Linked DNA regions of Homo sapiens. The protein of the gene in region 1 interacts with the protein of each later gene in a pairwise test. Each region holds a gene or a part of one and is shown on either strand. Other genes may lie near its edges.

Evidence for each region.
Region 2: the proteins of GLYAT (region 1) and NBPF19 interact in a two-hybrid assay, tested with the Homo sapiens proteins (one large-scale study listed by BioGRID).

What each region holds. Positions count from the first base shown.
Region 1 is NC_000011.10:58,711,601-58,714,943, reverse strand, and holds part of GLYAT (glycine N-acyltransferase), read left to right. Parts: intron 1-2,057; coding exon 2,058-2,184; intron 2,185-3,343. UniProt on the Homo sapiens protein: Mitochondrial acyltransferase which transfers an acyl group to the N-terminus of glycine and glutamine, although much less efficiently.
Region 2 is NC_000001.11:149,548,045-149,551,544, reverse strand, and holds part of NBPF19 (NBPF family member NBPF19), read right to left. Parts: intron 3,396-3,500; coding exon 3,223-3,395; intron 2,509-3,222; coding exon 2,400-2,508; intron 1,771-2,399; coding exon 1,598-1,770; intron 879-1,597; coding exon 827-878; intron 219-826; coding exon 46-218; intron 1-45.

The DNA.
Region 1 (3,343 bases):
AATAGCAAGAGCACAGATATAAAGTTGTAAAAAAAAGGACAATGAGTTAGAGTGACTATTGTTTTAGTCCGTTCTCATGCTACTAATAAAGACATATGTGAGACAGGGTAATTTATCAAGGAAAGACGTTTAATTGACTCATAGTTCAGCATGGCTGGGAAGGCCTCGGGAAACTTACAGTCCTGACAGAAGGGGAAGCAAACACGACCTTCTTCACATGGTGGCAGGAGAAAGAATGACAGTCAAGCAAATGGGGAAGCCCCTTATAAAACCATCAGATCTCATGAAAACTTACTATCACAAAGACACGGTGGGGGAAACCACCCCAATGATTCAATTGTCTCCATCTGGTCCCTCTCATTACACGTGGGGATTATGAGAACTATAATTCAAGGTGAGATTTGGGTGGGGACACAGCCAAACCATATCAACTATGAAAAGCAAAACTATAATGATAGAACTTCTATACACATTTGAGGAAACACTTAAAATTATTGAAACTAAACAATTAACACATTTCAAGATAAAAATGCATAAGCTTATTTCAAAACATCAGAAAACACAAATATACTTTTAATGCTAATAAAGTTATTTAAAAATCACTTTGTTGTGAGAACACTTAAAATCTACTCTCTCAGCAATTTTCAAGAATACAATACATTGTTATTAACTATAGTCACCGAGTTGTACAATATGTCTCTTGAACTTATTCCTCCTATTATAACTATTATAACTGAAGTTTCATATCTTTTGACTAACAACTACCCAATTCCTCTACTTTCCCCCACCTTACCTGCTGATAACTACCATTCTACTCTCTACTTCTATGAGTTCACCATTTTTACATTCTACATACAAAGGAGATCATGAGGTATCTGCCTGTGTTTGGCTTATTTCACTAAGTATAATGTCCTCCAGGTTCAACATAGGGGAAGCAATATGTATGCTAATTACCCTGATTTAGCCATTTCAAAATGTATACATATTTCAACACAACATATTGTTAATAAATATATGCAATCATTTATTTGCCAATCAAAATAAAAAAATAAACAATATATGAAATGAATAAATTTATGGTATGAAAACTAAACTGAAATAAAATTATTTGATCTTTTATTAAATGTGGTCTTAAGCAACAAAATGTGTCAGTGGTATCATTGCTGACTTGTGAGTGGGTTTTTTGTGCAACATTTTCCAACTTTTTAAAAAGTTTTTTAATTCTATAATAGTTGTGGTAATATTTTCATCCACCTTCTTCCTGTAAATAATTGTATCTGTCATTTACTAATTTGAGAAGCTCTTTCCGTGTAAGTGGATTGTTTGTTTCTCTGGAACTGCAACTGGTTTAACCAACATATTTTTTAAAGAAGGCATTTTGAATTAGTTTTTAATCTTCTTTGGTATCAATATCAAGTTTCATACTGCCATGGTCATAGTTTGTGTATTCTGCAAGTCTTTGAACTGTAGTAAAATTTATTCTTGTGACATAAGCTTTCCCTTGTCAATTGCCTTTCTCTTCTTCCTGTTGAGGATGATGGTGGTAAGAAGAATGCTTTCTAAATGGTTATGTCTTTTATTTGAAATTTTAACGTGATATGTGGATAATGAATAGTATTGTTCTGGAATTTTCCAACATAAATTGAATATTTGATCTTTATCTCATTATTTAAAGAATTCAGAAATAATTATATGCATACAAACCCACAGTTAGATAAAGGAAATAAGTTCTAATGTTTAACATAGGATGACTATAGTTAACAGCAATGTATTGTATATTTCAAAGTAGATTGAAGGAGGACTTGAAATGTTCTCAACACATGGAAATAATAATTATTCTGGATGATGAAAACTATGACTTGATCATTAAACATTCTATGCACATAACAAAATATTACACATTTTTTACAAATATTATGTATCAATAAAAAAGAAATAATTGTGATACACCAATAAAACTACCAATATTTTATTACTTAGAAATATCACAGTATAAAATTATATGTAATCATAAAATATAAGGATGTGTTTTATTTCCTTTTTCCTAATGATAACAGGATATGACAGATGACCTTGATCACTATACCAATACTTACCAAATCTACTCCAAAGATCCCCAAAACTGTCAGGAATTCCTTGGATCACCAGAACTCATCAACTGGAAACAGCATTTACAGATTCAAAGTAAGTAAGAGGAATGGGATGTGTGCTGACTCACTTATGTGTCCTGAGCAAGTTTTCATATGACTTATACCTCCTTCCTCCAAGCTCCAGACTCCCAGCCTGCTGTCAATTTTGTTACTGTGTGGTAACTATATCTGTAAAAGGTGGTGGACAGCGTGGGAAACCCTAAAATTTGCAAAGAATGGGCTTCATAAAGGGAACTATAGTATAATTCCTTGGTACCAAGGATTTATGACATATTTTGCAGCTGTATCCAGACCTTTTAGGGTGATTGGATGCTGAAGAAGAGCCTTCCCTCTGGACTTCTATTCCTGTAATAAAAATGATAGCTTATTTGGCCATAGAATACTTCCCAGGTCACCAAGAACAACTATCATGGTTCCAACTATGCTCTCTGGAGATTCTCTAGGATGGCATTTGCCTATTACTTGCTGTATAATCTTAGTTAAGTGATTTAATCTCTCTGAGATTATGTTCCTCATATATAAAAATGAGGAAAATAATGTTACCTAAAACACAAGGCACTGAAAAGATTAAATGAAAGTGACTAGGAAGTGCTTAGCATAATACTTAGACATATTAGTTAATGTTTGCTGCATAGCAAACCTAATAATTCTGTGAATCAACCATTTGGGCTGAGCTTTGCAAGGCAGTTCTTCCACTGGTCTTATCTGGGTTTACTCATGTAGCTGTAGTTGATGGGTGGACCATGGCTGATTGCTCTTACACGGCCTCACTCACATGCCTGAATGAGAGTTCTGCTGTTAGTTCATGACAGCTGGTGACTGTGGTGACAGCATGATGGCAACATGTGTCGCTAGCAGGCTGGCCCAGGCCTATCTTAATGGTATTGGTCTTAACATAATTGGTCTTAACCAGGAGCAAAAACAAAGGGAAAGCCCCAATGGGGCAGGCACTTTTAAGCCTCTCCTTGCATTAAATTTGCTCTTTCCATTGATGAAAGATGGTCAATGTGGCCAAGGTAAGTTGCAGCAGAGGAGGGGACTATCTGGGGAATGGATTCCAGGAGATATGTGCAAATCATGGGTCATTGCCTCATATTATTACACTAGGAATGTAGCTTAGTAGATGTTACCTACCGTTTTTTAAATTTACCTACTAGGATTATCAAAATTGCTACACAATTACGCAGCCCAGA
Region 2 (3,500 bases), on another chromosome or scaffold:
GGAAGACCAGGTGGAGGCTTATCACCTTCATAGTAAGGTACTCACTGTCCACGTCAAGAGCCAAGCCAAGGTACTGTTCCTCCAATGAGTAAACAGCACTGCTGTAGGGCTGGCCTAAGTCAGGCAGTTCAAGATAACCTGAAGGAGTCGAATAACATCTATCCAGTGGGTCCTGCAAGACTTCAGGCTCTTTCTCAGCCAGCAGCTCCCTGCTGAGCCTGGAAAAGTAGGAAAAAGTAAAGAATAAGCCAGGGGGAATCAGAAACCACACAGCCCCAGCTAGATTTCATGGCTAACATAAGGAACTGTTTAAAAAGAAAAAGGACAGATCCATTAATGAGGTAATGAATTATTGCCTTTATGTTGGGATAGACCAGGGCCAGGTAGAAAAGAATGAAAGAGAAAGACAGGGAGAGGGAGAGAGAGAGAGAGAGAGAGAGAGAGGAGAAAGTGAGCTCAGCGAGTTGGCCGGGTGACACACTGATGAAGGGGTCAAAGGACACTCTGAGTTAGTGCCCTCGGGACACACAGCGAACAGTGATCATGAAAAGAGTGGGCTCAATAATTTTCCATAAACTTGCTCAAGATTCCATGCAGTTGCCATACAGCCTTTGAGGTATGGTCAACCTATAGTAAGTTAGTAAATGTTAAGGGGAGGAAGAAATGGAAACCTAAACATCTACTGCAATGAAAACCAACAGCCATGTCAGTAGGAGTAATTCAACCTTCGTTGAAAACATGAAATTGAACACACTCTTGTTTTCCCTGGACCTGGCATCTCCAGGTGTCAACACAGAATTAAGCATCCATAATTGCTCAAAGTTACCTGGGGCATGATGGGTCTTGGTCTTCTTCCACTTCTTGGTACTTTTCAATTTCTGCAATAAGTTCAGACATGGACAGACATATGAAGCTGGTTCTCCTACACACATAACAATCCACTGTCTAATCCTCACACAGGGACTTCAGGCTCCTCAGCATGAGAATAGGACACTGTGAGAGATATTCTTCAGGAGGCCTGAAGGCTGATCACCATAGAGATTCCTTGGTTTTTGTCCCAGAAACTGTGGGTAAAATTCCCTATTCTGGTAGATCGTTATCCCAATATCATTTGTCCCAAGTTTGTGCAAATGGTTATGCCATATTTTTCCAATCGATTTAAAGCAAATACCCCCAAATGGTTGCTAGGAGAAAAACTGCACTATTCAGCCCTGTCTCATCAAATACTCAGATTGTTCATGGTAGCGAGGATTTTAGACGCTGAAATTAGAGTGAAGGATGAAATCTACAAGATCTACAAAATTGAGACAAAATCAGAGTTGTGTGAATTTGTCACATCTGCCCAGGTCCAGTGTCATGAGAGTAGGATTAGGGCTCCACAGGCATGGCCTGAGACTAGGGAGAGAGCCTTGCTCACTGACCCATCCCTTGTCTGGGCTGCCAAGTGGAACTAGAGTTTCATTCAACCTACATGTGCCTATAGGTCCTCCCTGTGGCAATGACATCTCTCAGCTCAGTAAGGGCCACTTGCAGTAGGAATATGACCCTAACCAGAAGACTCAGTGGATCCTTATCACCTTCATAGAAAGGTACTCACCATCCATGTCAACAGCCAAGCCAACACACTGTTGCTCCAATATGTAAAAGGCACTTCTGTAGGGCTGGCATGAGTCAGTCAGTTCAAGACAACCTGAAGGAGTTGAATAACATCTATCCAGTGAGTCCTGCAAGACTTCAGGCCCTTTCTCATCCAGCAGCTCCCTGCTGAGCCTGGAAAAGTGGGAAAAAGTAAAGAATAAGCCAGGGGGAATCAGAAACCACACAGCCCCAGCTAGATTTCATGGCTAACGTTAAGGAAGAGTTTGAAAAGAAAAAGGACAGATCCATTAATGAGGTAACAAATTATTGCCTTTATGTTGGGATAGAACAGGGCCAGGTAGAAAACAATGAAAGAGAAAGACAGAGAGAGAGAGAGAGACAGAGACAGAGAGAGAGACAGAGACAGAGACAGAGAGAAAGTGACCTAGTGAATTGGCCAGGTGACATACTGGTAAGGGAGTAAAAGGACACTCTGAGTTAGTGCCCTCATGACACACAGCAAACTGTGATCATGAAAAGAGTGAGCTCAATAGTTTTCCATAAAATATGCTCAAAATTCGATGCAGTGGCCATGAGAGTACAGCTTTTGAAGTATGGTCAACCTATGGTACGCTAGTAAATGATAAGGGGAGGAAGAAATGGAAACCTAAACATCTACTGCAATGAAAACCAACAGCAATGACAGTAGGAGTAATTCAGCCTTCGTTGAAAACATGACATCAAACACACTCTGGTTTCCCTGAATCTGTTGCCTCCAGGTGTTAACACAGAATTAAGCATCCACAATTGCTGAAAGTCACCTGGGGCATGGTGGGTTTTGATCTTCTTCCCCTTCTTTTCTTCCCCTTCTTCTTTCCTTCTTTGATCTTCTTCCCCTTCTTTTCTTCCCCTTCCCCTTCTTTTCAATTTCTGCAATAAATTCAGACATGGACAGACACATTAAGCTGATTCCCCTACACACATAACAATCCACTGTCTAATCCTCACACAGGGACCTCAGGCTCCTCAGCATAAGAATAGGACACTGTGAGAGATATATTTCAGGAGGCCTGAAGGCTGGTCATGATAGAAATTCCTCGGTTTTTCTCCCAGAAACTGTGGGTAAAATGTCCCTATTCTAGTAGATCGTTATCCCAATATCATTTGTCCCAAGTTTGTGCAAACAGTTATGCCATATTTTTCCAATCAATTTAAAGCAAATACCCTCAAATGATTTCTGGGAGAAAAACTGCAATATTTAGCCCTGTCTCATCAAATACTCAGATTGTTCATGGTTGTGAGGACTTTAGACACTGAAATTAGAGTGAAAAAGGAAATCTACAAACCCTTGAGTCAAAATCATAGTTCTCTGAATTTGTCACATCTGCCCAGGTCCAATGTCATGAGAGTAGAATCAGAGTGCCACAGGTATGGCCTGAGACTAGGAAGAGAGCCATGCTCACTGACCCATCCCATGTCTGGGCTTCCAGGTAGAACTAGAGTTTCATTCAACCTACATGTGCCTATAGGTCCTCACTGCGGCAATGACATCTCTCAGCTCAGTAATGGCCACTTGGAGCAGGAATATGATCTTTATATGGAAGACTCAGTGGATGCTTATCACCTTCATAGAAAGGTACTCACCTCCCACGTCAAGAGAAAAGCCAACATGTTTTTCCTCCAATGCATAAAAGGAACTTCCATAGGGCTGGCAGGAGTCAGGCTGTTCAAGACAACTGGAAGGAGTTGAATAACATCTATCCAGTGAGTCCTGCAAGACTTCAGGCTCTACTACCTCCAGCAGCTCCCTGCTGAGCCTGGAAAAGGAGGAAAAAGTAAAGAATAAGCCAGGGGAAATCACACACAACAGAGCCCCAACTAGGTTTCATGGGTAGCATAAGGAAGTGGTTAAGAAAGTAAAA